2 linked regions of the Homo sapiens genome follow. The protein of the gene in region 2 interacts with the protein of the main gene of each other region in a pairwise test. Each region holds a gene or a part of one and is shown on either strand. Other genes may lie near its edges.

What was found.
Region 1: the proteins of CFTR (region 2) and ETFA interact in binary tests that used the Homo sapiens proteins (3 or more experiments, as listed by UniProt).

Annotation. Positions count from the first base shown.
Region 1 is NC_000015.10:76,279,796-76,284,806, reverse strand, and holds part of ETFA (electron transfer flavoprotein subunit alpha, mitochondrial), read left to right. Parts: intron 1-981; coding exon 982-1,050; intron 1,051-5,011. UniProt on the Homo sapiens protein: Heterodimeric electron transfer flavoprotein that accepts electrons from several mitochondrial dehydrogenases, including acyl-CoA dehydrogenases, glutaryl-CoA and sarcosine dehydrogenase.
Region 2 is NC_000007.14:117,608,161-117,613,171, forward strand, and holds part of CFTR (cystic fibrosis transmembrane conductance regulator), read left to right. Parts: intron 1-2,358; coding exon 2,359-2,509; intron 2,510-3,420; coding exon 3,421-3,648; intron 3,649-5,011. UniProt on the Homo sapiens protein: Epithelial ion channel that plays an important role in the regulation of epithelial ion and water transport and fluid homeostasis. Mediates the transport of chloride ions across the cell membrane.

The DNA of each region.
Region 1 (5,011 bases), on a different chromosome or scaffold from region 2:
AGGCATGTGCCACTACGCCCAGCGCGGTGACTCACACCTGTAATTCCAGCACTTTGGGAAGCCGAGGCGGGTGGATCACCCGAGGTCAAGTGTTCGAGACCAGCCTGGCCAACATAGTGAAACCCCGTCTCTATTAAAAATACAAAAAATTAGCTGGGCATGGTGGTGGATGCCAGTAGTCCCAGCTACTCAGGAGGGTGAGGCAGGAGAATTGCTTGAACCTGGGAGGCAGAGGTTGCAGTGAGCCGAGATCGCACCATTGCATTTCAGCCTGGGCAACAAGAGTGAAACTCCTCCTAAAAAATAAATAAATAAATAAATAAAAATAATAATTTTGTATTTTTAGTAGAGACGGAGGTTCTGCATGTTGGTCAGGCTGGTCTCGAAATCCTGACCTCAGGTGATCCGCCCACTTCAGCCTCCCAAAGTGTTGGGATTACAGGTGTGAGCCACCGAGCTGGGCCCTGACTTGTTTATTCACTTATTTATTCAAGAAATGTATATTGGTTATCTGTTCTATGACAGGCTTATTGCCAAGTGCTGGAGAAACAGATGAAAAGGCAGAATGTTCTTCCTCTCGAGGAGTTTAAAGTCCTTGAGATGACTCCCATTCAAATAATAACTTTATTCAGTCATTCAGAGAAATTTATTGAGCATCTATTATATGTAGAGTTTTGCTAAATATTGCAGATATGGCAGTGACCAAGATAGATATAGATCCTGAAATTAAAGAGTTTTTATTCTAGTGGGAAAAAAACTCATATTAATTACACAATTAGTTAACTAGGTAATCATAGTAGTGTTGAATGCTTTATAGAAGTATAGGAGTGTCAGAGGCCAGAAAAGGTTTATAGAGGAGGTGACATGCTTAATATGGCAGTTACATAATATGAAAATTTACTCCAGTATATAAAATAGCAAAATTGTTCCAGAATGTATTTGATGTTTGCCTAATTTTTTTTTTTCATCTTTTTAAATGAGGTCGAGGCTTGAAGAGTGGAGAGAACTTTAAGTTGTTATATGACTTGGCAGATCAACTACATGCTGCAGGTAAAGTTATTTTCCTTAGTAGAAAGATATTCCCTTTTTGTTGGAAATATTTTTTCTTCATTATTTCATTTTTGTGTAAGTCTTTCAGCCCTACAAATTATTTTACTTTTCCGGATTTTTCAGTTTTTCTCTCTGAACCAGTTTTTCTTAAGCCTCCAAGTAAATGGTATATAGCATTCAGTGAGGAGAAGGCCTCCTAGTATCTCTTACCTTTGCCTAATCTTAGTAGGTTTTCTTTTTTCTTCACTTTAAAAATAATGAAATGGGCCAGGCGCAGTGACACACACCTGTAATCCTAGCACTTTAGGTTGCTGAGGCAGGAGGACTGCTTGAGCCCAGGAATTTGAGACCAGCCCTAGCAATGTAGTGAGACCCCATCTCTACAAAACGTTTAAAAATTAGCCAGGCATATTGGTGTGTGCTTGTAGTCCCAGGTACTCAGGAGGCTGAGGTGGGAGGATTGCTTGAGCTTGAGAGGTGGAGGCGACAGTGCACTGTGGTCGTGCCACTGCATTCCAGTCTGGGCAACAGAGTGAGACCCTGTCTCAAAAATAATAAAAGACAAAATAATGAAATGTTAGTTTCAGTGCCTACTTCAGATTCAGGAATACCCTGGTTTTTCATCTTTTTTTTGGTGGTCTTAATATAACTCTTATACAAATAGAAATACATTTAAAGTTTTTAAGTTTGTAGTTAAAAATATAGAATTGTAGTTAACCATTTATAGGTAAGGTAGAACCTATTGCTAAAAGTACATTGATGAGAAGGGAGTGATGTTTTTTGAAAAACCAAAAAAATTTAAGCCAGGCACAGTAGCATGTGTCTGTAATCCCAGTTACTTGGGAGGCTGAGTTAGGAGGATTGCTTGAACCTAGGAATTTGAGACCAGCCTAGGCAACCTAATTGAGACCCTGTTTTGAAAAAAAATCTTTTTAAAGACATTTGATTATTTTTGAATTACACAATCACTACAATGAATATATATTAAAATGTCCCAATTCTGTCATCTCACCCTCCTTTTAAGACTTTAACATATAACTTTCGAGGGTTTTCCTGTAACTTTCTGTGGTTTTCCTGTGCGAAATTTCTATTACATAACACGTGTACCCATAGAAACAGTAATAGTTTTGTCAGAATAAAGGCATTATATTGACACTGTATAATCAGATGGTAGTATTTCAGGGTTTATTTTCATTCCTTCTTTCTTTGAACAAGTATTTATCAAGTGTCTGCCATATTCCAGGTACTATTTTAGGTGCTATTAGTTTATTTTGGCTACAGTAATAAGTTACTACAAACTTGGTGGCTTAAAGCAACAAAGTTTTTCTCTCACAGCTTTGGAGGCCAGAGATGTGTTGAAGTGTTAGCAGGGGCCATACTCCCTCTGGGGGCTCTAGGAGATAATCTGTTATTTTCCTCTTCCAGCTTCTGGTGGCTACTCTGATATCCCTGGGCTTGTGGCCACATCACTACAACCTCTGCCTCTGTCTTCATATCATCTTCTCTGTGGGACTGCATTCAGTCTCCTTCTGTGTCCCTCTTATAAGGATACATGGCAGGCGTGGTGGCTCATACCTGTAATGCCAGCACTTTGGGAGGCCAGGGTGGGCGGATCACCTGAGGTCCGGAGTTTGAGACTAGCCTGGCCAACGTGGTGAAACCCCATCTGTACCAAAAATATAAAAATTAGTTTGATGTGGTGGTGCACACCTGTAATCCCAGCTACTTGTGAGGCTGAGGCAGGAGAATTCCTTGAACCTAGAAGGCGGAGGTTGCAGTAAGCTGAGACTGTGCCACTGTACTCCAGCCTGGGTAACAGAGTGAGATGCCGTCTGGAAAAAAAAAAAAAAAAAAAAAAAGGATACGTGTAATGGCATTTAGGGCCCATGTAGATAATCCAGGATAAACTCCCTCTCAAGATCCTTAGCTTTATATATATCTGCTGCCACGTAGGTAATATTCACAGGTTCTGGGTATTAGGATGTGAATATATCATTGGAGGGGCCATTTTCTTGCCTACTACAGACACTTAACACCATAGATTAGTAAATAATATAATATGGGCCAGGCGTGGTGGCTTACGCCTGTAATCACCTGAGGTCAGGAGTTTGAGACCAGCCTGGCCAACATGGGGAAACCCCGTCTCTACTAAAAAATACAAAAATTAGCTGGGCGCAGTGATACGTGCCTATAGTCCCAGCTACTTGGGAGGCTAAGGCAGGAGAAACGCTTGAACCTGGGAGGCAGAGGTTGCAGTGAGCAGAAATCATGTCACTGCACCCTAGCCTGGGCAACAGGGCGAGACTCTGTCTCAAAAAAAAAAAAAAATGTTAGAGAGTCGTAAGTGTTAGGGAGACTAATAGGATGGGTTATGGGGGGTGGAGAATTGAAGGGAAAGATTGAAGTTTAAAATAAGATAGCCAGATTTGGCCTTAATGAGAAAGAGACATCTGGCTGGGTGTGGTGGCTCATGCCTGGAATCCCAGCACTTTGGGAGGCCAAGGCGGGCGGATCACTTGAGGCCAGGAGTTCAAGACCAGTCTGGCCCACGTGGTGAAACCCCGCCTCTACTAAAAATATAAAAATTAGCTAGGTGGGCGGATTTCTTGAGGCCAGGAATTCAAGACCAGCCTGGCCGACATGGTGAAACCCCACCTCTACTAAAAATACAAAAATTAGATGGGTATGGTGGCACGTACCTGTAGTCCTAGCTACTCAGGAGGCTGAGGCGGCAGGATCACTTGAACCATGAGGTGGAGGTTGCAGTGAGCTAAGATTGTGCCACTGTACTCCGGCCTGGGTGACAGAGACACTGTCTGAAAAAAAAAAAAAAAAAAAAGACATCTGAACAAAGGTTTGAAGGAGGTGAGGAAGCGACCCATGAGGAGATCTGAGGGAGAGTGTTCCAGACCAGAGCAACTAGTAAAGTGCACAGAGCCTGTCTAACGCAGGAACACATCTGGCCTATTTGACGAATAGGAAGGAGGCCAGTGTTGGAATGGAAAGTGCAAAAGAGAAAGTAGCAAGAGATAAAATTGGGAGGCAACACAAGACCAGATCACATAGGGCCTTATAGGACATTGTAGAGATTGCTCTTTCTCTGAATGAAATGGGGAACCATTTCAAGGTTTGAGCAGAAGAATGACATGATCTAACACATTTTTAAAGGATCACTTTGGCTGCAGTTTTGTGAATAAGCTGTAGGGGGTAAGTATAGTAATGGGGAGATCAATTAGCAGGCTATATCAGTCGTCTAGGTGGGAGATACTCATAGTTTGGACCAGGGTAGTTGCAGTTGATGTGGGGAGAAATTGTCAGTTTTGAGATATATATTTGAAGGTAGAGCCATCAGGATTTCCCGACAGATTGGATGTGGATTATGAGAGAAAGTATTTTTCCTGGCGAGTGGTAGGATGGAGTTACAGTTAGCTGAGATAAGGAATATCTCGAGTGAAGCAGTTTCCAGGGAGAGATCAGGAGTTCAGTTTTGGGCATATTAACCTTTGAGATGTCTAATAACAGACATCTGAGTAGACATGTCAGTTAAGCAGTTGGTATAGGAATGTGAAGTTCCATGGAGAAGTTTGGGCTAGAGGTACATATTTGAGAATCAGTTCATTTGGATGATATTGAAAGCCATGAGACTGGATGAAATTACCAAGGGAGGGAGTGTAGATAAAAAAAGAGGTCCCAGGCCAGGTGCAGTGGTGTGAGCCTGTAGTCCCTGCTACTCTGGAGGCTGAGGCAGGAGGATCTCTTGAGCCCAGGAGTTTGAGGCTGTATTGTGTTATGATTGTGCCTGTGAATAGCTACTGCATTACAGCCTGGGCAACAGAATGAGACTTTGTCTCTTAAGGAAAAAAAAAAAAAACTCAGGACTAAGCCATAAACCCTGTATGATTGAGAGCTAAGAGAGAAAAGGAGAAAGAAGACCAAAAAGGAGTGATAAGTTAGGCTAGAT
Region 2 (5,011 bases):
GCTCTCAAATTTTTTCTTTTATGCCAGTTTGAATCATTTCTGCTCAATTTTTTTTTTTAATTGGGATGGAGTCTCACTCTGTTGCCCAGGCTGGAGTGCAGTGATGCAATCTTGGCTGACTGCAACCTCCACCTCCTCGGTTCAAGCGATTCTCTCGCATCAGCCTCCAGAGTAGCTGGGATTACAGGCGCGCACCACCATGCCTGGATAATTTTTGTATTATTACTAGAGATGGGGTTTCACCACGTTGGCCAGGCTGGTCTTGAACTCCTGAACTCCTGACCTCAAGTGATCCACCTGCCTCAGCCTCTTAAAGAGCTGGAATTATAGGTGTGAGCCACTGCACCAGGCCCTGTTCAACTTTTAATGCTAAGATTCATTTGTTGTTGTTTCACAAGTGATTAGGCAGAGGTCTTTTATATTAATTTACCCATTTTATTTGTAAGAGAGTCTCATATTAAGGAAGCATAATATATGACAATCCAAATACAGTACAAATTTGGTTAATTTTGATTTTGTTAAATAATTAATCACAGGGGTCCTTCAAATTGTGAGCTCCTCTGGTTATACTTATGTTTTACCTCTGGTTATACTTAATTTCAAACAAATGAAATTTCATTCTATTCATGATATTTCAGAAGCAGATCTGTTGCACAAAATAAAGCATACCTATAAATTTTCTTTTTTTAAAAAAAAGTCTCTGTTCACTCTATTTTCTATTATTTTTCTCTTTTTAAAATTTGAATTTTATTGTGGCAAGTCCACTTAACATGAGATTTACCCTCTTAACAGATTTTTATGTGTAAAATACAATATTGTTCACCATGGGTAAATGTTGCACAGCAGATCTCTGGAACTTATTCATTTTGCACTACTGAAATTTTATACCTGTTGATTAGTATCTCCCCATTTCCCTCTCTCCCCTGTCCTGTTACCCATGGTTCTGTTCTTTGCTTCTTTGAGTTTGAGTATTTTGATACCTCATGTAATCTTCATTCTATTTTCTAACTTTGACAATGTTCTGACAAATTTGCTTTCCGGATTGGAGCACTGTATAGTGAAAATTGAAAATCTTGGTTATTTTCTACAGATTCCCACTATTTTACCTTGAGCAGACACTTATCTTGAAGGGTCTCAGATTTGTCACTTGTAGAATGGGGAATATAAACCTGATAATGGTCCCTTTCAGTTCTAAAGTTATATCAGTTGAAAATACATGTGTCACTTATGGTAACGGGTAGAGAACTGGCTCACTGAACAGCATATGGATATTATAAAGTGGTTTTTTTTAATCCTTTCTGCAGACAGTTACTTTATACTTTATTCAAATGGATTATTGTGAAGTACATGTTAGCGGACTTTGTACCTTTTAAAAATGTATGTATTTGGTGTAATGTAGAAATATAGAAATTTATTAAGTATGATTTATTTCAATGTTAAGCATGAGAAAATATGCTCCGAAAGGTTAGATAGCTTGCCTAAATGACAAGCTTGTATTTCAAGCAGAACTTTCTGAATCAAAAGACTCCAAGACGAATGCCCAGCTTTCAAAAACTGTCTAACCAAAATAAATCCTAAGATTCACCTTCATACTAAAATTATTTAAAAATAGTTTATTTTAAATTAATATTCACTTAAAATGTATTTATCATGCAATACTTTAAAGTGTCTGGGAAATGAAAATATCCAAAGATCAAAGAACACCATGTTTTCAAACTTCAAAAATGTTATCAGTGACCTAAACAATTTTTAAAATTTTCATAGAGCCTATGAAAAATGTACTTGCAAATGGCTACTTTCTGACTAGGAATAGAATGGGGAGAGTATTTAGTCCAACAATGATAGACTGGATTAAGAAAATGTGGCACATATACACCATGGAACACTATGCAGCCATAAAAAATGATGAGTTCATGTCCTTTGTAGGGACATGGATGAAATTGGAAAACATCATTCTCAGTAAACTATCGCAAGAACAAAAAACCAAACACCGCATATTCTCACTCATAGGTGGGAATTGAACAATGAGATCACATGGACACAGGAAGGGGAATATCACACTCTGGGGACTGTTGTGGGGTGGGGGGAGGGGGGAGGGATAGCACTGGGAGATATACCTAATGCTAGATGACGAGTTAGTGGGTGCAGTGCACCAGCATGGCACATGTATACATATGTAACTAACCTGCACAATGTGCACATGTACCCTAAAACTTAAAGTATAATAAAAAAAATAAAAAAAAGTTTGAGGTGTTTAAAGTATGCAAAAAAAAAAAAAGAAATAAATCACTGACACACTTTGTCCACTTTGCAATGTGAAAATGTTTACTCACCAACATGTTTTCTTTGATCTTACAGTTGTTATTAATTGTGATTGGAGCTATAGCAGTTGTCGCAGTTTTACAACCCTACATCTTTGTTGCAACAGTGCCAGTGATAGTGGCTTTTATTATGTTGAGAGCATATTTCCTCCAAACCTCACAGCAACTCAAACAACTGGAATCTGAAGGTATGACAGTGAATGTGCGATACTCATCTTGTAAAAAAGCTATAAGAGCTATTTGAGATTCTTTATTGTTAATCTACTTAAAAAAAATTCTGCTTTTAAACTTTTACATCATATAACAATAATTTTTTTCTACATGCATGTGTATATAAAAGGAAACTATATTACAAAGTACACATGGATTTTTTTTCTTAATTAATGACCATGTGACTTCATTTTGGTTTTAAAATAGGTATATAGAATCTTACCACAGTTGGTGTACAGGACATTCATTTATAATAAACTTATATCAGTCAAATTAAACAAGGATAGTGCTGCTATTACTAAAGGTTTCTCTGGGTTCCCAAATGATACTTGACCAAATTTGTCCCTTTGGCTTGTTGTCTTCAGACACCCTTTCTTCATGTGTTGGAGCTGCCATTTCGTGTGCCCCCAAACTCTACTTGAGCTGTTAGGGAATCACATTTTGCAGTGACAGCCTTAGTGTGGGTGCATTTTCAGGCAATACTTTTTCAGTATATTTCTGCTTTGTAGATTATTAGCTAAATCAAGTCACATAAACTTCCTTAATTTAGATACTTGAAAAAATTGTCTTAAAAGAAAATTTTTTTAGTAAGAATTAATTTAGAATTAGCCAGAAAACTCCCAGTGGTAGCCAAGAAAGAGGAATAAATATTGGTGGTAATTTTTTAAGTTCCCATCTCTGGTAGCCAAGTAAAAAAAGAGGGTAACTCATTAATAAAATAACAAATCATATCTATTCAAAGAATGGCACCAGTGTGAAAAAAAGCTTTTTAACCAATGACATTTGTGATATGATTATTCTAATTTAGTCTTTTTCAGGTACAAGATATTATGAAATTACATTTTGTGTTTATGTTATTTGCAATGTTTTCTATGGAAATATTTCACAGGCAGGAGTCCAATTTTCACTCATCTTGTTACAAGCTTAAAAGGACTATGGACACTTCGTGCCTTCGGACGGCAGCCTTACTTTGAAACTCTGTTCCACAAAGCTCTGAATTTACATACTGCCAACTGGTTCTTGTACCTGTCAACACTGCGCTGGTTCCAAATGAGAATAGAAATGATTTTTGTCATCTTCTTCATTGCTGTTACCTTCATTTCCATTTTAACAACAGGTACTATGAACTCATTAACTTTAGCTAAGCATTTAAGTAAAAAATTTTCAATGAATAAAATGCTGCATTCTATAGGTTATCAATTTTTGATATCTTTAGAGTTTAGTAATTAACAAATTTGTTGGTTTATTATTGAACAAGTGATTTCTTTGAATTTCCATTGTTTTATTGTTAAACAAATAATTTCCTTGAAATCGGATATATATATATATATGTATATATATATATATATATATATATATATACATATATATATATAGTATTATCCCTGTTTTCACAGTTTTAAAAACCGATGCACACAGATTGTCAGATAGCAATTCTGTGATTGAAGGGGAAATATGTCACCTCTTCATACTCATATTGGTGAAGGGTCCTAGCTTCAAAATTAATAGATTCCTAAAGAGGGGAAATGAAACATCCGCATTTACACACACACACACACACACACACACAGAGTTCCTCTTGTCGGTAAGTTTTGTTTTTTTTAAATCTCTACTAGATAAAATTTGTTATCTAATTGTGAGTTTTACACAAAGAAAAACTGTCACAGAAAAGAAAGACAGTGTCACATTTTTCAAAAGAAAAAGAAGAAAAGAAAGTGCCATGTTTTTCAAATACAAATGTTCTGGATTGATTTTAGGATCTTTAGTGAAAAACAAAGTATTTCATAATAAGTAAAATAAAAATCTATGTAGGTAAATTTGTTTCTCTAATTTAAGAATTTGAATTTCTGAGTATTTATGATAAGTGTTGAAATAACTTCTTATATGTGACAGTGAATACTGGCAGAGCAAATGCCAAATCAATGCCAAATCTGTAGGATCATTTGATTGTAGGAACAGAATTCTACTCAAACCGAAAGCAGGCATTTGCTGGAGTTACAGAAAGGCCTCATGGAACACCGAGAAGGTGGTGCCATTCGACTCTTAAAGAAGCTGCAACAGGCACAAGAGAGTCAGCTGCAGCTCTTCTTCTTGAGTCTATATCTGTCCTGGGTCCATTCCTTTTTGTGGTTGCTTCATTCCTTTCTCTCTCTGAAGACTGGTTTTTCTGGTCTACCAGGGCTATGCCACATTGACTTTATGTAGTGTCTCCATTCTGGCCTCCTGAATTTACAGGAGAGTTCCTCTGTACAAACTCAAAGTCCTGGAGAGAACAGAAAACAGCTTCCTTTTGGCTCAGGGGTCCAACTGCAGTCTACTCTGCTGCTATGAGGATAGTGGGTTCACCACCTTTGTTGTTCTCTCAGCTAGGGCAGTGGGAAATGACTCTATGAAAGGAATATACATGGGCAGGCAAATGTACTAATCCTCATCAGTACTGTAATTTTAAGCAACTTTAAAAAATTCTTTTAAGTTATTTG